Homo sapiens: one gene and its partners. The protein of the gene in region 4 purifies or fractionates together with the protein of the main gene of each other region. This does not show direct contact. Each region holds a gene or a part of one and is shown on either strand. Other genes may lie near its edges. The genes, in order: SLC25A30, POTEF, DENND6A and BTN2A1.

Region 1 (7,889 bases), on a different chromosome or scaffold from region 4:
GGGCTGTTAAAAAAATATTGGTGGGGGGCAGGGCAGGGAATTCTATACATTCAGAATAAATATAGAATTTTCCAGCAGAGGAAATAAAAAATTTTATTTTTAAAAATGTTAGCTGTTGGCCGGGTGTGGTGGCTCAAGCCTGTAATCCCAACACTTTGGAAGGTGGAGGAGGGTGGATCACTTGAGGTCAGGAGTTCGAGACCAGCCAGGCCAACATGGTGAAACCCGGTCTCTACTAAAAATACAAAAATTAGCTGGGCATGGTGGCAGATGCCTGTAATCCCAGTTACTCGGGACGCTGAGGCAGGAGAATAGCTTTGAACCCGGGAGGCAGAGGTTGCAGTGAGCCAAGATGGCGCCACTGCACTGTGGCCTGGGTGACAGAGCGAGACTCCATCACAAAAAAAAAAAAAAGAAAGAAAGCTGTTGGTGCCTGGCTGAATAATTTTTTTTTTTTTTTTTTTTTGAGACTGAGTCTCGCTCTTTCACCCAGGCTGGAGTGCGGTGGTGCTATCTCAGCTCACTGCAACCTCTGCCTCCCAGGTTCAAGCAATTCTCCTGCCTCATCCTCCTGAGTAACTGGGATTACAGGCACGTGCCACCACGTCCAGCTAATTTTTGTATTTTTGGTAGAGATGGGGTTTCACCATGTTGGTTAGGCTGGTCTCGAACTCCTGACCTTGTGATCTGCCTGCCTCCGACTCCCAAAGTGCTGGGATTATAGGCATGAACCACGGCGCCCGGTCCAAATTTTTTAAAGTTAAAAACAAAACAGGCCGGGCACGGTGGCTCATGCCTGTAATCCTAGCACTTTGGGAGGCCGAGGCGGGTGGATCACCTGACGTCAGGAGTTCGAGACCAGCCTGGCCAACACGGTGAAATCCTGTCTCTATTAAAAATACAAAAATTAGCCAGGCATAGTGGTGGGCGCCTGTAATTCTAGCTATTCGGGAGGCTGAGGCAAGAGAACTGCCTGAACCTGGGAAGCGGAGGTTGCAGTAAGCTGAGACCGCACCACTGCACCCCGGCCTGGGCAACAAAAGCAAAACTCCATCTCAAATAAATAAATAAATATATAAATAAATACAAAAAAAAGTGAAAAATACAAAGTAAAAAAACAACAACAAAAATGTTAGCTGGGCTAGTCACACATACCTGTAATCCCAGCTACTTGGGAGGCTGAGGCTGGAGAATAGCTTGAGGCCAGGGGTTCAAGACCAGCCTGGGCAACAGAATGAGACGACCACCTATACTAAAAAAATCCAAAACATTATCTAGGTATGGTGGTACGCGACTCTAGTCCCAGCTACTCCGCAGGCTGAGGTGGAAGGGGCACATAAGCCCAGGACTTCAAGGCTGCAGTGAGCTAAGACCATGACACTGCACTCTAGCAGCCTGGGTGACAGAGCAAGACCCTGTCCCAAATAATAAATAAAGGTTAAAAACAAGTTTTCTGAATGAAATTGTCTATACAAATTAAGAATTTCAAAGGATTCTCCCTACACTTAGGATATATGCTAAGTTACACATCCTGTCTACATTTTCTCTTACATGGTTGCTTAGTATTTATTTTCACCCACCTGACCTCATGTGTACAGCTGTAAAGGGAGGTAATTAAATATAATACTAGCTGTTCGTACTTTTGAACGCTTTCCAAGTTTCTCTTATTTATTTATTTAGAGGCGGAGTTTTGTTCTTATTGCCCAGGCTGGAGTACAATAGCATGATCTCGGCTCACTGCAACCTCCGTCTCCTGGATTCAAGCGATTCTCCTGTCTCAACCTCCCGAGTAGCTAGAATTAGACATCCGTCACCACGCCCGGCTAATTTTGTATTTTTAGTAGAGACGGAGTTTCTCCATGTTGGCCAGGCTGGTCTCGAACTCCTGACCTCAGGTGATCCGCCCGCCTCGGCCTCCCAAAGTGCTGGGATTACAGGCCTGAGCCACCGCTCCCAGCCGTTTCTCTTATTTAATTCTTGGTAAGTTCTTTCAGTTTTACTTCCTGTTCCCTTTTTAGTCTTAAGTCTTAAAACTGTAATTGCACAGCCTTTAATGTGCTCTCATACATTTATTGTTCCTTGCTGGACCGACTGCCCTTTCAATAATGCCCTTTCATGAACTTTTCCTATTTCCTATTCTTTTTAAAGGTGCAGAAGGAAAACTAAGCTCATCACAGACTTACAAAAAGCCGGGTTTAAAAGAAATCTTCGAAATTATCATCTCGTTTCACGTTAATTAACTGAGCCCGCGGTCACAAAGCTTCGCAACGGCAAAGCCAAAAGCAAGATTCATGCCTTTCAACTTTCTCACTACCCAAGTAGCACCGCAAGCCGAATCCGCAGGGCAGTGCCAACATTGTTTGCTACTCTTGCGCAGAACAAAAATGCTAATCACTGCAACTGCTTTACATGAAAGTGCACCTAGAAAGACTTCAAAACCCAGAGGTACATTAACTTTCCAGGCAAGTTCCTCCCAGCCTGTGTGCCACGAGCGATTCCGAATGTGGTGTGCCCTCTCCCACAGTGCGAAGCTCGCGGGCGCTCAGGCTGCCGTTTGAATGAACGCACGAGTGGGAGGGACGCACAAGCAGGGTTGCAAGCCCGGGGCTCGTTAGCAGACGCGGAGATGCCAGGACGGGCTTCGCACTCGGATCTGAATGACCCTGGAACAGGAATCACCCCACGCCAACAGCGATGGGGGCCCCGCGGCACCGGCCCGACCCAAGGAGGCAGCAGCCCGAGAAGCAGAGCCCTGTCCCCAGTCCCCGGAACCTCGCGCCCCGCCGAGCCCGGCCCGGCCTGCGAAGTGGAGAGCACAGGCAGCCCCGAGCACGCCCGGTTGCAAAGGAGGCTCCTCGGAAATCGCAGCCCAACCTTACCCCAGGCCCGGGTTCCAGGAGCCGCAGAGAAAGCGGGGCCGGCAGGAGGAGGCACGGGCCAGGACTTACCTGGCGGCAGCGGCCCCACACCTCCTCCAACCCGGACTCAGTTGTAACAAGAACCTGAGGCCGCTGGAGAAAAGGAAAAAATGCCGTCGCGGGCGGGGCAGACCCACGAGCCTGCACGCAGCCCCGCGCCGCCCCGCCCCGTCCGCGCAAACACGCGACCTCCTCAGCTCCCATTGGTTTCTGCCAGCACTAGCCACACCCCTGACAGCCCCAGATGGGGACACGGAGGGGCGGGGCCCGTCCCAAGTGCCCCTCAGGATCTTCCCCTGCCGCTGCCTGAGGGAGCTGCCCGGGACTCGGTGACACCTGATGTGGCCTCCGATATCGACTGGGAGGTGGAAGAGAAATTTGGGGAACGCATCGAGAACCGTGGAAAAGCAACCTTCGCAGGGGGCAACCTTCTCACGGTGCCCCCGTGAACCTTCACAGTTGGATGGAAGTAAACTTGCCCTTATTTTTTTATACCCCAGCTTTTAGCTTGAAAATATACAGATTAGCCGGGCATAGCGGCGGGCGCTATAATCCCAGCTACTTGGGTGGCTGAGGCAGAAGAATCGCTTGAACCTGGGAGGCGGAGATTGCAGTGAGCAGAGAGCGTACCACTGCACTCCAGCCTGGGCAACAAAGCGAGACTTCGTCTCAAAAAAAAAAAAAAAAAAAAAAAAAAAAAAAAAAAAAAAAAAAAGCCAGACCTGGTGGCGGGTGCCTGTAATCCCAGCCACTCGGGAGGCTGAAACAGGAGAATCGCTTGAACCCGGGAGGCGGAGGTTGCAGTGAGCCAAGATCGCGCCACTGCACTCCAGCCTGGGCGACAAAGTGATACTCCCTCTTAAAAAAAAAAAAAAAAAAAAAGAAAGAAAATGTCCAAACAGAACAAAAAATTAAAAGAACCGTACTATGAGTAGAAATCTTTACATATATATCTAATATACATATATGTAAATATTTATTTATATATTAATATATAACATTTTTAACGGTATGGCAGTGTTTGTGTTCAAGCATACCCAGGTATATTTTTGTTTTGTTTTGTTTTTAGACAGAGCCTCACTCTTGTTGCCCAGGCTGGAGTGCAATGGCACCATCTCAGCTCACTGCAACCTCCGCCTCCCAGGTTCAAGTGATTCTGCTGCCTCAGCCTCCCGAGTAGCTGGGATTACAGGTGCCCATCACCACGTCCGGCTAATTGTTGTATTTTTAGTAGAGATGGGGTTTCTCCATATTGGTGAGGCTGGTCTCGAACTCCCGACCTCAGGTGATCCGCCTGCCTCGGCCTCCCAAAGTGCTGCCATTACAGGTGTGAGCCACGGCACCCGGCTGTGAACTCATGATTTAAACATATAACTGGGGCCGGGCTCAGTGGCTTATGCCTGTAATCCCAGCATTTTGGGAGGCCGAGACGGGCAGATCACCTGAGGTCGGGAGTTCGAGACCAGCCTGACCAATATGGAGAAAACCCATCTCTACTAAAAGTACAAAAATTAGCCGGACGTGGTGATGGACACCTGTAATCCCAGCTACTCGGGAGGCTGAGGCAGGAAAATCAGTTGAAGCTGGGAGGTGGAGGTTGAGGTGAGCCGAGATCACGCCGCTGCACTCTAGCTGCTGCACTCTAGCTGCTGCACTCTAGCCTGGGTGACAGCGCGAGAGAAAGAAAAGGAAAGGAAAGGGAGGGGAGGCGAAGGGAAGGGGAAGGGGAAGAAAGGAAAGGGGAAAGGAGAAAGAGGGAGGAAGGAAGGGAGGAAGGAAAATGCATATGTATAAAACTTGCATCTGTTGATGCAAAGTGCTACTCCAGGAATCTTTACATCCCTTGGTTCATTCAAGACAAAGAAATGTTATTTCCATTTTACAGATGACAGAACAGAGGTTTCATGAGATAACTGCCCTGTTACAGAACCAGGGCCCAGGGCCATCTCTCTCTCATTTCCTTCTCTTGTGTCTCCAGCTCAGGCCCCAGGTTGAGCTTAAACAATCTCTTTTCTGTGCTCCAACTTGGACTCTAGGTGAGTACCTGGATTTTTGGCCACACAATGTTTTGAAATCAATAAAATTTGGACCCCTTTGAAGTATCCCCTGAATTCTGGCCATAAAAACAAATACAATCCCCAGCCTGTGGGGGAAAGTCATTGGAATGCTTGCCTTTCTAGGGCAGGGAAATAAGTACATGACCCTTTCTACCTCTCTCTCACCTCACCAAGTCCTTTCCAGACTCATGACTGTGTGGTACTACATACAAAGCACTGGATTCCTCCCTTTCCTGTAGAGCTTTTGGACACCCAAACTCTACCATTACCCTAAGCCCCACCAGCCCATGCTAATACTCAGATAATACTTAGAAATACACAGGAATGGCCAGCCTTCAAGTATGAAGATCCCTTTGTGGGTTTTTTTGTGCTTTTGTTTTGTTTTGTTTTTCAAGACAGGGTCTCGCTCTGTCACCCAGGCTGGAGTGCAGTGGCCCAGTCACAGCTCACTGCAGCCTCGAACTCCTATACTCAAGCAATCCTCCTGCCTCGGCCTCCCAAAGTGCTGGGAGTACAGGCATGAGCCACCATGCCTGGCCAAAGATCTTTTTGAAAGAAAACTGAATTTTTTAAAAATTTTGAGTCCCTATAAAATAGATGGTAGTATTTTCAGTGTCCATTATGAAAATGCATATGGAATTTGTGGGGCCCCTGCAGTAACCTTGGGTTCCTCCAAGGGTCTTGGCCCAGGGATTGGAAACTATTTCTCTAGGGAATAGTAACTTGGTTGCAGCAGCATAACCAGTTTAGAAACAAGAATAACAAAAAAAGGCCAGGCGTGGTGGCTCACGTCTATAATCCCAATACTTTGGGAGGCCGAAGCAGGTGGATCACCTGAGGTCAGGAGTACAAGACTAGCCTGGCCAACATGGCGAAACTCCATCTCCACTAAAAACACAAAAATTAGCCGGGCATGGTGCTGCCTGCCTATAGTTCCAGCTGCTTGGGAGGCTAAGGCAGGAGAATTGCTGGAACCTGGGAAGCAGAGGTTGCAGTGAGTTGAGATCGTGCTACTGCACTCCAGCCTGGGCAACAGAGCAAGACTCCATCTCCAAAAAAAAAAAAAAAAAAAAAGAATTAAAAAAAAGTGGTAAGTCCAGAAATATATCTACGAACTATTCAGTGCCAGTCCCTGTTGGAAGCAACTTCTTTTTCATCTATTCTTTGCCTTCAACTTTCCCCCTATTTGGCTCTTTGTGCATGTTTTTTATCTGACTACAGTTAACACACCCAGGTAGCAATATGGAAATGAAGACCTAGGTTCTACTCAATCCTGGCCACAGCTTTATTAGCTCTCTGGCCTTGAGTTAATTAAAGTCCTCAGTTGCAAAATGGAAACAATACCCTCCCTACAGAATGTTAAATGAGGCGACGTGTGCAAAAACATACTTTGTAAAATGTAAGTGCTGTAGAAATATCTTTGAATTCATCTGGCCATGGCACTCACCAGCTTAAAATTCTTCATTGGCTCCCCAGTGTCCTCAAGATTAAGGCCCCTGACCACGTGGTCCTTAGAGCCCTCCAGCCATAAGAATCCAGTTCCCTATCCTCCTCACCCATGCACTTGCCCCTCAATCCTACATTCTAAAGTCTGGCCATATAGGCACTTCTCAAGTAGCTGGGCTTTTATTGCCATTTAGGCCTTTTATTAGCAAACTGTTAGAACAGTAACATCCACACAGCCAAAAGCCCTCACTACACTCCCTTAGGTGGATGATGCCAATCTCTATGAGGAGCTGGGCAGCAGGAACCATTTTTTACCCACATCATGGTTTTCATCATCTTGGCAATTGTGTGTGCACTATATAGTGGCAATAAATAACAAATGCTTTGGAATCAACTACAATTTGATAAATGTTTGTTTAATTACATTAAACTACAGGAATGATGCAGATAATATGGACCTGCGTCTTGTCAAGAATGAGTCTCACAGGTTTTTCTGGATGGTTGGTGCTTGCAGAATGAAAGGGCTTAGTCAGACCTTTTAGGGGTAACATTTGGTGGTTGGCGAAAGGAGGAGGTTGTATCTGACTGAGACATCTGGTCACCTCCTCTCCTTGGCAAAATGCAGAAGCAATGAGCCATTGCTACTCCTAAGAAGAACACCTGGATAGGCCAGTGTTCCTAGCTGGTGTACTGGGAATGAGCCCATAAAATTCTTTATCATTATATTTTATTGCAGCGGTTCTCAATCTGAATCAGATTTTGCCCTCCAGGAGAAATTCACAATGTCTGGAGTTTTTCGGTTGCCTCAACTAGATGCTTGCTACTGGCAAGTTGGTAGGGACCTAGGTTGCTGCTAAACGTTCAACAATGCCCAGGAAGGTGGCAATAGTACTGAAGTTTTAGAAATCCTGTTTTATAGGAATGTTGCTTTGGGCATTTGTTTTTCTTGGTTACAGGTGCTTTGTTGAGAATGCATCTTTTGTGTAAGTCACTGAATGGCTGTATAAAATACTCACAGCTCCCCAAACACAGGGATACTCCCTTTTACCTCTGCAACTTGGCACACACTGCATTGCACCTGCTGAGTTATTTCTCTTGCTAAGCCCTTCTCATCCATCAGGCCTCAGTTTGGACACCATGTCCTCCAGGAAGTCTCTCCTAATCACTAAAAACTGGGTGAAATGGGTGCCTGCCCTCTTTGTGCATCCATGCTGCTATGAGAACAGTTACCGCACTTCAAAAGAATGAGCAGTTTTCTCGACAGTCTTCCCATGAAACAGTAAGCTCGTTGGGGTAGGGACCCAGTCTTGCTCACTACTGTATTCTTAGTGCTCAGCATAGCACCTGGCACTGTGGGTCCCCAATAAATATAAGCACATTTGGAGAGTCTCTATAATTTGAGAGTTGGCAGGAAGACAGAGGTCAGGATGGAGGCTTTGTCAAATTGTCTGTCCCTTCCCATTGATAT
Region 2 (4,218 bases), on a different chromosome or scaffold from region 4:
CATTTTAGGGACAGCTCCAGTATTTCATGAAAATTAAAATTTCTTCTAGTGACGAACAAAATGATACTCAGAAGCAATTTTGTGAAGAACAGAACACTGGAATATTACACGATGAGATTCTGATTCATGAAGAAAAGCAGATAGAAGTGGTTGAAAAAATGAATTCTGAGGTATTTTCTTTAGTTATTTTCAAATGTTTTTATATGTGTGTATATTTTAAAGAACTGTATTTTGGAAATATAAAGGATTTTTAAGTCATATATATGTGTGTATATATTCTATATATCCTTTGTCATATATCTATATACGTACGTATAGGATAAAGCCATGTTCTTAATTCACCTTCATTTGCCTGCAACAGTTGAGTAGTGACCTGCACAATGGCCTCAATCCAAAGGAGAAGTATTTGATATTTTTCATAAGAATTGATGATCTTTCCACATCAGAAATAAGTTTTGCTACTGAAAACAGATTTTCTCGTTTTTGGACATTAGTTTTTTAAAAAATGTTAATAGAGAAGTCAATTGATTATTTTTACTGATAAGAAAGTAGGAAATGTATAGCTGGGTCAGAGGCCACATTGTGGATACCATTATCCTTACTTTTGCAGAGAGGAACAGTTTGCTCCAAGTAGTTTCTCATTTCAATGTAAAGAGGTTTGAAAAGAATGACATGCCATGATACACATTTAGTAATAATTTATTGATAAGTATTTTCTTTCTGGAGAAATAGTTCAGTATATTTCCCCTATTTCACCATTACTACTGTTTCAAACATTATAAAGAGGAAATAAAAGTTACCGCAATGGCAAATAATCTCATGATTTCTAAGAAAATCTCTATAAGTTGTATCTTATTTACCATTCATATTTTGAAACAAAAGGTTTCTTTTGTATTTATATATTTACACCACAGAAGTAAGTGTGGTTTTGTGGAGGATCACTAGAAGTAGCATCAGCAGACCTGGGGAAAATCCTGCATCTGTGTATATTTTTTGACCTCTCCTTTTAAGAATCGCGATCTTAAATGAGTTCAGTATTATATGTAGAAGAGCAATGCCTAGATACAGATGTGTACAGTGTAGAAGGGTACAGTGCTTATTTGACAGTTATAAATAAATGTAATTCTTATAACTGAGTATAGAAATATTAGAAATGTAGAATATCGGTAAAACGTTCTTAAGTAAAAGAAACTTAAAGAACTTTGAGAAATTGCTTCTGTCCAAATATATGCATAGCTAAGGCTCTTAGGATGGTGTGGTTGATAGGTTAGATATCAGAGTGTAAACCTAATCTTAAAAATGTAGTCAAATTATTAATCTTATATTTTATGCCTCTGGGTTTTTTGTAACTCAGAAAAAAGGCTTTTTTTAATTCTGGGATTCTTAAAAATCCTCTAGTGATTTATTTTTCATCGTCTTTAAATAAATATTTAAACTTTTAGGAATTTAGGAGCAGATTCCTAAAAGTTTAAATATTTATTTAAAGACGATGAAAAATAAATCACTGGAGGAATTTACACTCTTATTAGGTTTGAAGTTTTGTCCAATTTTTTTCCAGTTAAATATCCACTATGGGGATTCTTTCATTATACAAATACATGTTATTTTTGAATTTCAGAAGAAATCATGATATGTCAATCTATTGAGTGCTAACTAAAAGTTCTCTTTGTTTACTTAGCTTTCTCTTAGTTGTAAGAAAGAAAAAGACATCTTGCATGAAAATAGTACGTTGCGGGAAGAAATTGCCATGCTAAGACTGGAGCTAGACACAATGAAACATCAGAGCCAGCTAAGAGAAAAGAAATATTTGGAGGATATTGAAAGTGTGAAAAAAAGGAATGATAATCTTTTAAAGGCTCTACAATTGAATGAGCTCACCATGGATGATGATACCGCTGTGCTCGTCATTGACAACGGCTCTGGCATGTGCAAGGCCGGCTTTGCGGGCGACGATGCCCCCCGGGCTGTCTTCCCTTCCATCGTGGGGCGCCCCAGGCAGCAGGGCATGATGGGGGGCATGCATCAGAAAGAGTCCTATGTGGGCAAGGAGGCCCAGAGCAAAAGAGGCATCCTGACCCTGAAGTACCCCATGGAACACGGCATCATCACCAACTGGGATGACATGGAGAAGATCTGGCACCACACCTTCTACAACGAGCTGCGTGTGGCTCCCGAGGAGCACCCCGTCCTGCTGACCGAGGCCACCCTGAACCCTAAGGCCAACCGCGAGAAGATGACCCAGATCATGTTTGAGACCTTCAACACCCCAGCCATGTACGTGGCCATCCAGGCTGTGCTGTCCCTGTACACCTCTGGCCGTACTACTGGCATCGTGATGGACTCTGGTGACGGGGTCACCCACACTGTGCCCATCTATGAGGGGAATGCCCTCCCCCATGCCACCCTGCGCCTAGACCTGGCTGGGCGGGAACTGCCTGACTACCTCATGAAGATCCTCACCGAGCATGGCTATAGGTTCACCACCATGGCCGAGCGGGAAATCGTGCGTGACATCAAAGAGAAGCTGTGCTATGTTGCCCTGGACTTCGAGCAGGAGATGGCCACGGTGGCCTCCAGCTCCTCCCTAGAGAAGAGCTACGAGCTGCCCGATGGCCAGGTCATCACCATCGGCAACGAGCGGTTCCGCTGCCCCGAGGCGCTCTTCCAGCCTTGCTTCCTGGGCATGGAATCCTGTGGCATCCATGAAACTACCTTCAACTCCATCATGAAGTCTGATGTGGACATCCGCAAAGACCTGTACACCAACACAGTGCTGTCTGGCGGCACCACCATGTACCCTGGCATGGCCCACAGAATGCAGAAGGAGATCGCTGCCCTGGCGCCTAGCATGATGAAGATCAGGATCATTGCTCCTCCCAAGCGCAAGTACTCCGTGTGGGTCGGTGGCTCCATCCTGGCCTCGCTGTCCACCTTCCAGCAGATGTGGATCAGCAAGCAGGAGTATGATGAGTCAGGCCCCTCCATTGTCCACCGCAAATGCTTGTAGGTGGACTCTGACTTAGTTGCGTTACACCCTTTCTTGACAAAACCAAACTTCTCAGAAAACAACATGAGATTGGCATGGCTTTATTTGTTTTCTTGTTTCATTTTTTGTTTTGTTTTTTATTGGCTTGACTCAGGATTTAAAAACCGGAATGGTGAAGGTGACAGCAGTCGGTTGGAGGAAGCTTCCTCCAAAGTTCTACAATGTGGCCAAGGACTTTGATTGTACCTTGTTCTTCTTTTCAATAGTCATTCCAAATATTGTGAGACGCATTGTTTCAGGAAGCCCCTTGCCCTGCTAAAAGCCACCCCACTTCTCTCTAAGGAGAATGGCCCAGTCCTCTCCCTAGTTCACACAGGGGAGGTGATAGCATTGCTTTTGTGCAAATTACATAATGCAAAATTTTTTGAATCTTCGCCTTAATACTTTTTAATTTTGTTTTATTTTGAATGATCAGCCTTCGTGGCCCCCCTCTTTTGTACCCCAACTTGGGGTGTATGAAGGCTTTTGGTCTCCCTGAGAGTGGCTGGAGGCAGCCAGGGCTTACCTGTACTCTGACTTGAGGAGAGTTGGATAAAAGTGCACACCTTAAAACAAATTGAGGAAGCACAGTATTTCAGTACAGTGGACAGCTTAGCATGTTGACAACTGAGAATAAAATGCTCAGTTCTGAACTGGACAATGTAAGACACAACGAGGAAACACTGGAAATGGAAATTCAATTACGTCATTGTAGACTGGCTGCTGCTCTACATGATTGTGACCAAAGTCAGATAGCTGAAAGAGACTTCTTTCCAGAGAACAAGACATGAACAGGTTTATTTACAGAAGACAATGAATTCTCATTTATCTCACCTAAAAGAGAACAGATTCTTTCTCAACAAGTCTAATGAAGACAGTAAAATCAACAGGCTAAAAATTAAGCTCCACGAAACAAGATAAAACTCTGAGAGAAAAGACGGGGCAGGCCGCCATCTTTCCCGTTCAGGCAACGTAGTCATTCCAGCCTGCGGGCTTTGGAGAGTACAAACCGACGAGGGACAGAAGAGATCCCACAGCACAGCATAGCTGCTTTACCAAATCATGGCCAGACTGCTTCTGTAAGCAGGCCCCTGATCCTGTTCCACCTCACTGGACAGGACCTCCCAACTGGGGCCTCCAGCTACCCCCACCAGCATTCCTTGGCCAATGGAAATGTGAAATGTTCCTGGGAC
Region 3 (7,030 bases), on a different chromosome or scaffold from region 4:
TGATTATGAGATTTATAATTAAAATGTCTTTGAAAAGCAGCCAAGTTCATTAGTTTAAACATTTAATAATATTTAAATTAGTATTTATTTAATTTTTTATTTTTGTTGAGACACAGTCTCACTGTGTCACCCAAGCTGGAGTCCAGGGGTGTAATCTCAGCTCACTGCAACCTCCGCCTCCCAGGTTCAAGTGATTCTCACATCTCAGCCTCCCAAGTAGCTGGGATTACAGGCGCGTGCCACCATGCCTGGCTAATTTTTGTATTTTTACTAGAGACGGGGTTTCACCATGTTGGCCAGGCTGGTCTTGGACTCTCGACCTTAAGTGACCTGTCCACCTTGGCCTCCCAAAGTGCTAGGATTACAGGCGTGAGCCACCACACCCAGCCTAATGTTTAAATTAGTAAAGGGTAAGAGAAAATAAACTCTTCCATCATTAATACTAGATGCCTTCTTGTCTTTGGAGAAACTGGTAACATTAAATTTTGAAAATGGAAGGGAAAATAATGAAAATCTATATGACAACTGAAAAAAACCCATCATGTCTATTAATAAACACAATGGGTAGCAAGAAACTTTTTTTTTAAACAATGATCACTCAACAGAATACCTTATAAAATTACGTATCATAATGAAGCTAAGGAAAAGCTTCAAGACTAGCAGCTGAACTGTGAAACATGTAGGACAACAGAAGGCACTACATAAGCATCAATTCCTTCTAACCATAGGACAGTTCAGTCTTTCTGTTCTTAAGAAGATAGCCAGTGTGAATGTTATTTTTATATCCCCCTGAGTTTTAACATGATTGGGCAAAGCAGCACCAATTTAAAAAAATATCTGCAATGCCAGCACTGCAGTATGAAATCACTAATACTGATGGCCCACAAGTCTCTCATAAGAGCACTTTAGAACATGATTAAAAATATAGAAATGCCTTTCGGTGTTTCAGTATTAAAGTGGAACCACCACAGATATCCACTTTAAAAAGTAATGCACTAAAAAGGTCTGTTTATACAATACAGTCTTTCTACCCTGTAACTAGCATTCATGGCAATTTTCCACTCCGCTGCCACTGAGAGATCTCCTTTGTGCGTCTGGTTGAAATGTCAGTATGCTTCATGATGCATAATCCTTTTTGGCTGGAAAATCTTGGCAAATATCATGTCATGCCCGTTTTGAGCAGTATGCCTTGCAAGTCCTCTGGCAATGCTAAGATAATGGCATCTATGTGTGTCCGTAACTTTTCCATAGTGTCAGGTTTCACAGGTAAGTGCTCTCGATCAGCCTGCAACTACATAAGGAACATTTCATAACATTTAAATTATCCTCAGAATCTGTATTAATACATTACATTCTCTAAATAAACCATTTTAAAGGTCTAACAATTAGATACTTTCAGTCTTAGACCAGAAATTACAGAAACTAAAAAAGCAAGGAGCATTCTATTTAAACAATTCGTTATTGAGCTCAATAAAAGGCTTCTATGTAAATTCATAATAATACCTAGAAATATAAGTGACAATGTTTTTATAGAGCTTATTAGATTCTATATACATAACGTTAGAATAATATGGCATCATTATGGTCTGTTTCAGTGACCAAGTATTTTCAGCAGTATCTACCATCAATTGACCAATTTCAAGCCCTCTCATTTAAAAAGTTACTTCTGCGAACTATCATGGGTTGTCAGCTCACATGAGAGGACAATGTCTTCAAAGAAAAGTCAATTTAATCTTTGGCTGTTTTGGCTACATACCAGCTTATTTTTCAGCTTCAAGACAAGGTCTACTGTTTCTACTTCTGTGTGTTTCTGGATCCAGAGAAGTAAGTCCTAGAATAAATAAAGTCCCAAATCAGTAAGTTCTCAAAATAATATTCAAACCTCTCTATTTCAATAGGTAAGGCTACTGTGAAGGAAAGACAAGAAGGAAAAGGAGAACAAAGTATTTAACCCAGATATAGCATTATAGTGCAAGAATAATTCTCATAATATTCTAATAACTGTTAGATAATTTTCTGCATTAGCCAGAATAATTGTCTCATATTTGGAAGTAAAACAAAATGTACTGAGGTGGCTTTTTTAGATCAAGCAAGAAAAACAAAATTGCAGCTCAAACTGTAACAGTAACCCCCACTTCCACTAAGTAGTGACTAATTTATAAGGAACATTAGTTAACAAATCAAGAGAACTGAACATGAATTTACTACTGGATGTACACTTCGTGTTTTCGGATATGCTCTTCCTGGGCTTATGTTGCAGGTGCATTCATCATATTCCTTTTCTCAAAGCCACAGTGACTGGGAGTTTATGAGTAGAAAGTTAACACTGAGGTTAGCACACCTCACATTTAAAGCTAAATATAAATGAAAGTGAGACTATTCCTTTTATTTTCACAAGTAGTTTAATTTAAAATAGGCTGGTAATACAGAACATAAAAAAAAAATCAGTCCGCTTTTTTTTTTTTTTTTTTTTTTGAGACGGAGTCTCGCTCTGTCGCCCAGGCTGGAGCACAGTGGCGCGATCTCAGCTCACTGCAAGCTCCGCCTCCCGGGTTCACGCCATTCTCCTGCCTCAGCCTCCCGAGTAGCTGGGACTACAGGCGCCTGCCACCACGCCCGGCTAATTTTTTTTTTTTTTTTTGTATTTTCAGTAGAGATGGGGTTTCACCGTGTTAGCCAGGATGGTCTCCATCTCCTGACCTCGTGATCCACCCACCTCAGCCTCCCAAAGTGCTGGGATTACAGGCGTGAGCCACTGCACCCGGCCAGTCCACATTTCTAAAAGTGTTAATACTAACTAAAAAAGGTAAATACATCATACAGAAAAAGATGTGGAGTTAGGCTTCTTGGATTAGAATCCTTACTCTACCCAGTAATGTGCTGGTAAATATTTAACAAGTGGTTCTCCAAAAGAGGTCTCTGGTTTGTAGCATTTGCCAATTTCTGTGGTGTAGTACTCCCACTGTAGGCTATTTCAAGCTGCCAACCTGAGGTTACTGAATACAGAGCTGAGAAGAGATGTGCACATTTGGCTCTTGTGAGCCAATGCAAGTGGACTCCAGCACACTGTTGGCTCCACTACTTAGCAGGGATGTGATCTGAGGCAAGTCATTTAACTTCTAAGCCAAAAGTTTCCCATGATGCAGTTCATAACACACCTACCTCAAAGAATCATTGTAAAGATTAAAAGAGATTATCTATATAAAGCCCCTATAATGTCCTTGGCACATAGCACATGATCTAGAAAAGTTAGTCATCATTACTATTTATAAAGAGTGGATAAAGGGTACAATCTTCAACTTCTAAGCATAATTATCTTTATTTTCAACAGTTGTTAATCATTACACAAACACACAGTTTTCGAACCTCTTCACAAAGAGCTTCTAGATGGAGTGCCTCCAATTTTTGGGTCATTTCCTTCCTCCGGGTCTTAAACCAGCCATCAAAATTTGGAGACTTTAGGAAATGCCTATAAAAATACATTTTAAAAAAGTAAAGTTTGATTATAACTTATTTCCTTTCCTCAATACCTTTCCTAGTCAGAGAACCATGTCAAACTTTAGTAGAATTTTTTAAAAAGAATAAGCTTAAGTTTAGCTTTTTGTTTTGCTTTTAAATAAAGCACGACACATGGGTGTAAAACAGGGAAAAAAGACTAACCGGTAAAGTCCAATCCAATCGCCTTTTATTCTAGAGGTTAGCTGAGGTCCTGTTTTCTCAAGTGTTTTCATAAATTCTTCTGGAAGAAACTGTCTTAATTGAGGTGGACTCTAGAAAACAGGACATATAATATTTAGAAATTAGGAGTGGATATGTTCACAGAAGTTAATTACAGTTAGAGGACCCAAATAGATTTGAATATATTCATACCTTCCATGGGGAAATACTTTTCTGCAAAGGCATCAAGCTTGCCACATATCTTTCCTAAAACCAAGAAAAAAGTTAATAAAAGGAGTGTCTTCAAAAATATTTAAACAGACCTACTTAAAAGGAATGGGTCTTTTAAGTTTTTAATCATATGCCCTTTCAATGGACAGCAACAACTCCATCACTCCCCACAAGAGATATAGCTAAATTTAGACTGACTTGGGAAGTCAGATTTCAAATAAAAATTCAACTAAATCTTAGATAAACCAAGGGGACTACATTTTTTCTTTTTTGAGACAGAGCCTTGTTCTGTTGCGCAGGCTGGAGTGCAATGGCATGATCTCGGCTCACTACAACCTCTGCCCCCCGGGTTCAAGCGATTCTCCCGCCTCAGTCTCCCAAGCAGCTGGGATTACAGGCGTGCGCCACCACGCCTGGCTAATTTTGTATTTTTAGTAGAGATGGGGTTTTACCATGTTGGTCAGGCTGGTCTCGAACTCCTGACCTCATGATCCACCTGCCTCAGCCTCCCAAAGTGCTGGGATTACAGGCGTGAACTACCGCGCCCAACAACGCGGTCCATTTTTTAACGATAATAGTTAACCTTACTGAGCAACTATAGGCCAGATAATGCACTCAACATTTTACATGCATGATCTCTTGTAATCCTTGGAATGATCCTATGTGGTAGGTATTATTAGGAAACTGAGGCTTCTTCAAAAGGCTAAATAACCTGACCAAGGTAATACAATTTAGACTTGAAATGAGGTCTACTTGACTTTGGTCTCTGCTCTCTTTTTTTTTTTTTTTTTTTTTTTTGAGACGGAGTCTCACTCTTTCGCCCAAGCTGGACTGCAGTGGCGCTATCCCGGCTCACTGCAAGCTCTGCCTCTTGGGTTCATGCCATTCTCCTGCCTCAGCCTCCCGAGTAGCTGGGATTACAGGCGCCCACCACCACGCCCGGCTAATTTTTTGTATTTTTAGTAGAGACGGGGTTTCACCGTGTTAGCCAGGATGGTCTTGATCTCCTGACCTCGTGATCCGCCCGCCTCGGCCTCCCAAAGTGCTGGGATTACAGGCGTGAGCCACCGCGCCCGGCCTTTTTTTTTTTTTTTTTGAGACGGAGTCTCACTCTTTCGCCCAGGCTGAGTGCAGTGGCGCGATCTCAGCTCACTGCAACCTCCGCCTCCCGGGTTCAAGTGATTCTCCTGCCTCAGCCTCTAGAGCAGCTGGGACTACAGGTGCGTGCCACCATGCCTGGCCAATTTTTTGTATTTTTAGTAGAGACGAGACGGGGTTTCACCGTGTTAGCCAGGATGGTCTCGATCTCCTGACCTCGTGATCTGCCCGCCTCAGTCTCCAAAAGTGCTGGGATTACAGACGTGAGCCACCACGCCCAGTCCATGCTCTTTTTTTTTTTAAGAGAGTCTTGCTGTTGCCCAGGATGGAGTGCAGTCGTGCAATCACAGCCTACTGTAGTCTCAAAGTCCTGGCCTTAAGCAATCCTCTTACCTTCGCCTCCCAAAGTGGCAGGCCTGAGCCACTGTGCCCAGCCTAGTCCATGCTCATAAGCACTACAGTAAAGTTTATTTATTCAAACAAATAGATTTAATGGAATAAATAACTTGACACCCAAAGACCAAGAAATAATATTTCTTTCTAAAATATAACAGCAAAGATCTCCAGGATGCCCTATATAATGTTCATAGATATATTACTTTATATTAATAACTGCAAAAAGTTTCTCTATGATGCAGTTTCCAGAGCAGGGCCACATCATGGTACTCCCTATACTTTAATATGACATCCTTCTGAATTTCTTACAATAACCACATTGTCTAGTCATTTATTCCATAAATATTTGAGTGCTACCATATGCCAGTCTGACGAATTAATAACAAGCAAGACAGATATAGTCCCTGTTATCATAGAGCTACAGCCTCATAGACATTATATCAAATTGTATTCAAGATAAGTATCAGAAAGAAGCTCTACTATAATCTTCTTTTAAGGTGAAAAATGTAGTAACTACATAACATTTCATATAAAGTATATCATTTAAGATTCACAACAGTCTTGAAAAGGTACTTAGGAAAGTGGAATCAGCCATATTTCACAGGTGAGAAAATTGAGGGTCAGAGAGAGGGAGTGACTTACCAAAGTTGAACAGTTAACACTAGAACAGATAATCCAGGTCTCTTGCAAAGGGGTTTATTTTTAATCACTAAATATACCAGGCTGGCAAAACACACAACTTAAGATATGGTTTTGGAGGGCGGGAAAAACATTTATATACCCTTCACCAAATCATTAAATTATGCAAAAATTTATTTATTAACTTACTAATGGAATGATGAAACTTTGTGTCAGTTCCAAAAAATAGCGTCGAAGAATAACACTTTGAGCCTCAGAAGGACGTTTCTGTTGTACACCCTTAAAAGAGGAAATAATGAGAATCTGTATTCTAGTGTTGGAATATAAAACAATGGATAACTATCAGATTCAATTGCTATGTAAATATACATTTATACTTGATATTTAAAAAACTAGAACTTCACCTTGAAGTAATTTAATGTGAAGTTCATTGTGCAATATCCTGTGAAAATAATCTTTACCGGAGCAAAACATAAGAGTTCTTAGCTTAGGGAATACTGTTCATCCCATACTGTGAAAATGTGAGTTCACGGCTGGGCACCGTGGCTCACGTCTGTAATCCCAACACTTTGGGAAGGTGAGGTGGGTGGATTACCTGAGGTCAGGGGCTCAGGACCAGCCTGGCCATCATGGTGAAACCCCGTCTCTACTAAAAAATACAAAAATTAGCTGGGTGTGGTGGCGGGCACCTGTAATCCCAGCTACTTGGAAGGCTGAGACAGAAGAATTGCTTGAACCTGGGGAGGTGGAGGCTGCAGTGAGCCGAGATTGTGCTATTGCACTCCAGCCTGGGCAACAAGAGCGAAACTCCATCTCAAAAAAAAAAAAGTGAGTTCACTATAAAGACAATCTTTATTTTATATTTGCTATACTATACTATTTACATTAAAAAAAATGGTAACAGTCCCCTACTGTTAGATGCTATCATGGTAGAATCTATGGCTTTTTCACTATAATTTCCAAGTTTCTAGAAAGACTGACACTCATGTGTAGCTACAGCCCCAAATTC
Region 4 (8,022 bases):
TGTCTTGGTTGAGAGAATAACCTCATAGTACCAACATGACATGTGACTTGGAAAGAGACTAGAGGCCACACTTGATAAATCATGGGGCACAGATATGTTCCCACCCAACAAATGTGATAAGTGATTGTGCAGCCAGAGCCAGCCTTCCTTCAATCAAGGTTTCCAGGCAGAGCAAATACCCTAGAGATTCTCTGTGATATAGGAAATTTGGATCAAGGAAGCTAAAAGAATTACAGGGATGTTTTTAATCCCACTATGGACTCAGTCTCCTGGAAATAGGTCTGTCCACTCCTGGTCATTGGTGGATGTTAAACCCATATTCCTTTCAACTGCTGCCTGCTAGGGAAAACTGCTCCTCATTATCATCACTATTATTGCTCACCACTGTATCCCCTCTACTTGGCAAGTGGTTGTCAAGTTCTAGTTGTTCAATAAATGTGTTAATAATGCTTACTCCTCAGCTTGGCTTTTTCTAGACTGTGGTGTCTACTCAGCACAGTAGTCTGCACACCCACTGTACTCACCACAGTCTCAGTTTACCTCACTGCAGCATTTTCACAAGACCCTTATTGGATGCATTTTCTGTTGTTGCCATCTGAATTACCAGAAATGTATAGACATTTTTTTTTTTTTGAGATTGGATTGTGCCACTGTACTCCCAGGCTGGAGTACAGTGGCACGATCTCAGCTCACTGCAACCTCCACCTCCCAGGTTGAAGTGATTCTCCTGCCTCAGCCTTCCGAGTAGCTGGGACTACAGGTGCGTGCCACCACGCCTGGCTAATTTTTTGTGTTTTCAGTGCAGACGAGGTTTCACCATGTTGTCCAGGATGGTCTCGATCTACTGACCTTGTGATCCACCCACCTCGGCCTCCCAAAGTGCTGGGATTACAGGTATGAGCCACCGCGCCTGGCTTCAGAAATTCATGAACTTAAAGCAACACAAATTTATTATCTCACTGTTCTGTAGGTGAGAAGTCAGAAGTCCCACAGGGATCTCACCAGGCTAGAATCAAGGTGTCTGCAGGCTGGATTCCTTTCTGGAGTCTCTAAGGAAGAATCTGTTTCCTTGCTTATTCAGACTATTGGCAGAATCAGTTCCTTTCATTTATAGGACTGACGTCCCAGTTGTTCCCTGGTTTTTAGCTAAGGGCTGTACCCACTTCTAGAGGCTGCCACACTCTGGCTCCTAGCTCCCTTCCTGTATCTTCAAAGCAGCAACAGCGCATTGAGGCTCATCTCCTAGGTCTTTTTCTCCATTGTGTCTCTCTGATTCTTTTACCTTCTCCTTTTTTTCCTTCCTTTCTTTTTTTTTTTTTTTTCTTCTTTGACAAGGACTCGCTCTGTCACCCAGGCTGAAGTGCAGTGGCGTGATCTCAGCTCACCACATTGTCCCCTGGGCTCAAGCAATCCACCCATCTTAGCTTCTCAAGCAGCTGGGAGCACAGAGCCACATCACCATGCCTGGGTATTTTCTTGTAGAGACAGGGTCTTGCCATGTTGCCCAGGCTGGTCTCAAACTCCTGAGCTCAAGCAATCTGCCCACCTTGGTCTCCCAAAGTGCTGGGATTATAGGCATGAGCCACCACGCTCAGTCTGCCTTTTACTTTTAAAGACTCCTATGATTAAACTGAGATCACCCAGACAATTTAGAATAATCTCTCTATTTTAAGGTCCATAACCTTAATTCTGTGTAAAATTCATTTTACTGTGTTATACATTCTTTTCATAACTTTCATAGTGAATATAGCTCAAAGGGTGGGTGCGGGGAGCACTATTCAGCTCACCACACTGATTTGGGAAGTGATTCCAGGAAACACAAGTGCAGAAACAAATTGAGAAATGAAAAAAAGCCAATTACATGACAAATGGGATAAAGGGTTCACTCATGAGTCAGTTACCATGTGGATAACTTGGCTGAATCCCTTTTAGGACTCTCTAAGAAACCATATGAAATGTGTGATATAGCTCAGAATCTTCCTAAGGACTACAGGGCCTGGGACTTTATCTCCACTTCCCATCCTCCTTTGCTTGAATTGGTTGAAGGTTGGCCTGGGAGTGTTAATTCTAATGCACTTTAAGATTGGGCTATGTAACTGCAGAAAAGCAACTATCACGGGTGTGATAAAGCTCACAGGCAAAGGAGAAGGGAGATACTCACTGGAGGTGGAAAGGTTGTCATCCTTGCAGAAAACTGTGCCTCAGCTATTGGCAAACTGTGATAGGCCAAGAGAATATGGGATGGGGCATCAACAGCGTCTGTTATAAGGGCTCTGCCTCTGAGAATATAGTGAATGCCTTTCAAGGTCTCTCTGCCCTCGCTGTACCACATTTAGCATTAGTGACCTCTTCTCTTCCAATACATGCCCACATCACATGGCCCTGCAGCCTCACCACATGGACTGGGTCTGGGATGGACACCTGACCCAGGCTAGGCCAGAGGACCAAGTGACATGTGGCTAGTTACTCCTGTAGCAGATGTGCATGGGAGCTGTGGGAAGAAATGCTCCATTCATGGTGTGGACTAAACAATGGTGGATTGCAGAGAAGACCAAAGCAGATGAGCAGAGAGAAGGCTACAAGATGGAAAGAGTTTAGGCAAATTTCTCACGTTTGGTTCTTTTAGAAGCCCAGTATCATTTCTTCTTTTTGAAAAAATGTGTTCTTTTGAGGCAAGATAAATGTACTCGTTAATATTGCTTGTAGTCCTAATATTCAGAAGCTTATGCAACTATTATAATATGTTCAGTGATTCTGTGAGTCAGGAATCTAGAATTTGAACAGGGCAGAGTAGGAATGGATTTTCTGTATGTCAACATGTCTAGGCCTCCCCTGGGAGTACTCCATAGCTGGAGATGACACAGCTATATTACCTTCACAGACTGTAGTTTATTGTAAAGCAAAAGGAAATCAATGCTTACCCTGTATCCTGGTTCTTCCAGGGTTGGCAGGTCCATAAAGAACCTTGCCAACGTGACCCTTCCTGTCTCTATCCCTCCCACTACAGAGCATGATTGGGTTAGGTTGTTACTATCTAACCGGGCACACCCCAGTAGAGCCTGATTTCTTTCTAAGCTACCCCATCGTCAACTGATCCTCTTCCTTCTCAGAACACACACGTTTCCCTCTAGCTCAGATCAACTTTGGCAGAGGCTGAAGCCTGGCTTAGCTGGATGCTTCTGGCAAAAGGGCTACTTCAAAGCCCTGGGCCTTATTTCTTCAGGTAAAAAAATATAAAGTCAGATCTCATCCTGGCTGGCCATGCTGTTAGACCCTTTCATCCTTCTCTTCTGCCTCTTCTCAACAGCTGCCCAGTCCTGTTTGGAATTCATATACATACAGTTCTAATACTGATGTATTTACCCTCATAAGCCACTCAACCCAGAATCTTATTTGAATTATAATCCAGAAACATCAGGTGACGTGTGAGACTACTGTATGAGAAAGAGACAGTTTAAGGGTCAGTCCAATGGAAAAAAGAGTTCTCAGAGCTTTCTTTAGCTTATTCTCATCAAAGAGCTTTCTCTGCAGAAGGAACCTACTGGTTCCTCCTTTCCAGTCCTAGAAATCCTGACCTAGAGTGGCTTAATCCTGCTAGCACCTCTCTCTCGCACTCTGGTGCCAAATGACTCCAGGAACTGGGCCATGATGTGGTGGGAATGACCTTACCCTGAGCATGTCACTCATGCATTGAACAACAGCTAAGAGCAGAGCTTAGAGCTTAGAGCTGGGCCCTGTAAGGTGAGAGGAATCACATCCTGCAGAAGTCTGTCCTGAGAAGCAGGTACTCCTGTCACAGCAGAGACACAGTGGATACCTGAGTAACAATAATACAAGACAGGACGTGGGAACAGCAAAAGATTTGGGTGTCAGAAGAGGCCGAGAACACTTCAGGCAGGAACATTCAGAGTTGTTCTTGGAGGAAGTAGGCACGAAGGCTGGGCAGGATTTCACGGGGCAGAGATGGAGCAAGCAATTGAAATGAAAGCCATGGCATGGGAAAAGGAGCACTGGCCACAGGGAGTGCAACGTTGTGATGCAAGGCCACTGTGGAGCCATTGCTAGCGTATTAACTGCAAAGTTTTGAATTGAATCAGAAGGGAATTGGAGGCCTCCAGACTAAGCATTTAGACACTTGAGGGGAATATTGACAACTGGGCCTCGGGAAGATTATTCTGGAAGATATCTTTACAATTACAAGATTGGAGCCTTTGGGAGAGGGATGATGTTTACGGGAGGATGGTATGTGTGCTAGTGTGTGTGTCTGTGTGTGGCTCTTGGACCCAACCTGACCACCTACTATCTAGAAGGTGAAGGACAACTAGAAAGTTTTGCTCAATTCCATCTTCTGCCACCACCAGAATGCCACCTCCCTGAGGGAAAAGGTTTTTGATCCTCAGTCAGGATTCTCAGCACCTCTTATCCGATAGCTTTGGAATGAATGGCAAGGCCTTCATAACAGCCACTGCAACTGCTGTCTCCTTTCCTTTGCTACCCCTCCCGCTCCAGCCATGCCAGCTTCCCCCAAGCCCTCCTGCGCTCCAGGCCCAACCTCCAAAGCCAGCAACTTGAACAGGAGTCCTCTGGCTTTGGAAAGGGGGCGGCTTACGTTTTCCTGCTCATGTTTCCTCCCCAGCAAAATTGCCCTCTACATAGAGAGGCCTCTCCTTGTGGACACCAGCAAAGCCACCGACCTCAGTGACAAACCCCAGGGAATCTCCCCAAGGAATCTCAAAGCGAGAGAGAGAGAGAGAGTCTTGAGAGAGAAAGAGAGAGAGAGAGAGTCTTGCTTTCGAACAAAGAAAAAGGAAATAAAAAGACCCGATAATCTCAAAAGGTTATTTGCTGCTTGAAATTTGTGATTCGGTGTATTCTACCCAGCAACTGCTGAGAAATAAGGTTCGACACCATTGGCTGGTTCACTCACACCCGGCCAATCCTGGGCTCTAAAATACTTAGGGAACTCTTGGGACTGTGGAAGCCCAGGAGACCAGATTTCGTTTCCTGCATCTCCAAACATGGCGACCTAGGAGAAGGGGAAGAACAATTTTTTCTCCTCTTTTGGGAAGGTTTGTGTCTAGTAGTGCCTGTGCCCCTGGGCAGATTGGAGAGAAGAGGGACGACTGGAGAATCGTCGAGAACCAGCGGAGAAAAGAAAAAGCAACGTTTAATTCTAGAAGGTAGGAAACGGAGGGGAGGCGCTACAGCTCCGGGGTGGGCACAGTAGGTGGGGGAAGCGGGGTCTGCTGTGGACACGAGACGGGGTCCTGGGACAGGGAAAGCCCACCGGTGGGGAGGCGCGGCCTCGCCTGTCTTTGCCTCAGGCTGCCCGGCCTGGGTCGCGGGGAGGAGGAAGTGAAGGGAGGAGGGTGTGGTAGAATCCAGCGACAACTGAAGAAACTGCATTCTGGCCAGAGAAGTGAGCCGAGGAGGGCGGAAAAAGGCCCCCTTGATCTTGGCATTGATGGCTTACTTCATGGAATGTTTAAGGAATCCCTCTCTCGGGACATACCTGAGCCTTCGGATGCAGGGGACTCCCTGAAGTTGGGGCACTGATGAGACCTACTTGAGTGACGGGAGAGGTTGGGCCCGACCAGCACTGAGGTGCCAAGACTCCTAGGCTGATTCTCCTCTGTAACCCTAGGCCTCCTGTCCCTGCCTGCTCTGGGTGCTCATGGAATCAGCTGCTGCCCTGCACTTCTCCCGGCCAGCCTCCCTCCTCCTCCTCCTCCTCAGCCTGTGTGCACTGGTCTCAGGTAGGGATGTGTGCCACTTGCTGCTGTCACCTATCAGAAAGGAACATCAACCCTGTAGTCTGCAAAGGGAAAGAAAGAAGGACTGTGGAGTTGTTGACTTACCCTTTCATTCTGAACATGTTCATTGAATTTATACCAGCACTGTCCAAAAGGAATACAGTGAGGCACAAAGGCCGAGTGCATGTACAATTGCAAATTTTCAAAAAAAATTAAATTTTACTTTTTATTTTAAAAAGTAAAAAGAAACATGAAATAAATTTGTATACTATATTTTGTTTCGCCCCAAATAATCAAATACGAATATTTAAATACTTAGTTAATATACCATATTACCAATGAGATAGTCAACATTTTGAAATTTTAAATCTTCATAATCCTGTGTGTATTTTACACTTACAGCTCATTTCAGTTGGAACTAGCTAGTGGATATGTGTCCTATTGCACGGCTCAAGTTTACAGTACACTCAGGCACAGCACTAGATTGGGAAATCGAGGAAAATCCCCTCAAGGGCACAGGGTGGACAGAGGGTGCTCAGGGCAGGTTCCTCAGGGTTTCCTTCATGAAGCAGAAGCACACTTTATAGTTACTGCTCCCAGGGGTGCTGTCGACTAGCCACAGCTACTGGTCCCCAGATTTCTCAGCCCAAAGAGACCCTATGGCCATGGAAAAAATAAGTTTGTCCCTAGAATATCTGCTTCCTTTCTTGCCTTAGAGATGTGATGGCTGGTGTCTTTGTCTGACTCTACCCCTTTGTTGAACAGCCCAGTTTATTGTCGTGGGGCCCACTGATCCCATCTTGGCCACGGTTGGAGAAAACACTACGTTACGCTGCCATCTGTCACCCGAGAAAAATGCTGAGGACATGGAGGTGCGGTGGTTCCGGTCTCAGTTCTCCCCCGCAGTGTTTGTGTATAAAGGTGGCAGAGAGAGAACAGAGGAGCAGATGGAGGAGTACCGAGGAAGAACCACCTTTGTGAGCAAAGACATCAGCAGGGGCAGCGTGGCCCTGGTCATACACAACATCACAGCCCAGGAAAACGGCACCTACCGCTGTTACTTCCAAGAAGGCAGGTCCTACGATGAGGCCATCCTGCACCTCGTAGTGGCAGGTGCGTCGCTTCATTTTGCTTTGTTACTTTGGCACAGTGTGACTTTGGGGAAAGTTTCTCTCCTAACCTCAGGCCCATTGCAGACCAGCAAATTTTTGTCTGGACTCCCTTTTCCACTCTCCCTGTGGAAACGGAATTCCAGGGAAAAATCCTTCCTCCTGCACAAGGGACACATGAGTGGGTTTGCCCTGCTAAGCTAAGGGCTTCACTTCTTGAGAAGCACATGCAGAATTCAGCTGAGGCCGTGAGCAGGGGAAAATGGTCAGTCTCGGAAGAGAAGTCTTATACCTGCCTTAGGATTGAACTGTGCACTTCTTTTGGGTTTTTTTTTTCTTTTTGAGACAGAGTCTTGCTCTGTTGTACCCTCGCTGGCACGATCTTGTCTCACTGCAACCTCTGCCTCCCAGGTTGCACTTCTGAGAGTGAGAGGAGACACTGTCAATAATTGTTCCAAGACAACTGGAATAAACTGATTACCCAGAGAACTACAACATATCAAATCTTATTTCTTGATAAATATTAATCTTTACTTCATCTTTCCCAAAATGCTGATTGCAGAGAGAGTGACTTATTGTAAATAGATGGTTTTATTAAACCAAGACGAAATACAGAAGCAAAATTATATATAGTTCCTGCTAACTCCATAGAGAAAGACTACGAATTTTGCTGGGAGGTAATAGGGAAGCCTTCCACATAAAAATGCATTTAAACTGGGATTTCTAGGAATTTGTTAAAATGACATTAAGTGATTACTTCAGTTTTGGGGTTAGTGTATTATGCTTTAAAAGATATATTTGGGCTGGGCGTGGTGGCTCATACCTGTAATACGAGCACTTTGGGAGGCAGAGGCAGGTGGATTACTTGAGGCCAGGAGTTCGAGACCAGCCTGGCCAGCATGGTGCAACCCCATCTCTACTAAAAATACAGAAACATTAGCCAGGCTTTGTGGAGTGTGCCTGTAATCTGAGCTTCTTGGGAGGCTGAGGCACAAGAATTGCTTGAACCCAGGAGGCAGAGGTTGCAGGGAGCCGAGATCTTACCACATCACTCCAGCCTGGGCGACAGAGCAAGACTCTGTATCAAAAATTAAACAACAACAAAAAAGATATATTTGAGGACTGAAAAAGCCTTTAAGGTGCAGGATAATCTGTGGTGG

The links.
Region 1: the proteins of BTN2A1 (region 4) and SLC25A30 purify together in Homo sapiens (affinity purification with mass spectrometry; 3 studies listed by BioGRID and IntAct, with this or other methods). This does not show direct contact.
Region 2: the proteins of BTN2A1 (region 4) and POTEF purify together in Homo sapiens (affinity purification with mass spectrometry; 3 studies listed by BioGRID and IntAct, with this or other methods). This does not show direct contact.
Region 3: the proteins of BTN2A1 (region 4) and DENND6A purify together in Homo sapiens (affinity purification with mass spectrometry; 3 studies listed by BioGRID and IntAct, with this or other methods). This does not show direct contact.

Annotation. Positions count from the first base shown.
Region 1 is NC_000013.11:45,415,352-45,423,240, forward strand, and holds the start of SLC25A30 (kidney mitochondrial carrier protein 1), read right to left. Parts: upstream 3,023-7,889; 5' UTR 2,949-3,022; exon of another isoform or gene 2,811-2,948; intron 1-2,810. UniProt on the Homo sapiens protein: Antiporter that transports inorganic anions (sulfate, sulfite, thiosulfate and phosphate) and, to a lesser extent, a variety of dicarboxylates (e.g. malonate, malate and citramalate) and, even more so, aspartate.
Region 2 is NC_000002.12:130,073,033-130,077,250, reverse strand, and holds the end of POTEF (POTE ankyrin domain family member F), read left to right. Parts: intron 1-49; coding exon 50-170; intron 171-1,678; coding exon 1,679-3,007; 3' UTR 3,008-3,716; downstream 3,717-4,218.
Region 3 is NC_000003.12:57,627,055-57,634,084, forward strand, and holds part of DENND6A (protein DENND6A), read right to left. Parts: intron 6,301-7,030; coding exon 6,211-6,300; intron 3,925-6,210; coding exon 3,871-3,924; intron 3,771-3,870; coding exon 3,661-3,770; intron 3,470-3,660; coding exon 3,367-3,469; intron 1,832-3,366; coding exon 1,757-1,831; intron 1,292-1,756; coding exon 1,160-1,291; 3' UTR 1-1,159.
Region 4 is NC_000006.12:26,452,963-26,460,984, forward strand, and holds the start of BTN2A1 (butyrophilin subfamily 2 member A1 isoform 1 precursor), read left to right. Parts: upstream 1-4,992; 5' UTR 4,993-5,180; intron 5,181-5,644; 5' UTR 5,645-5,674; coding exon 5,675-5,756; intron 5,757-6,518; coding exon 6,519-6,866; intron 6,867-8,022.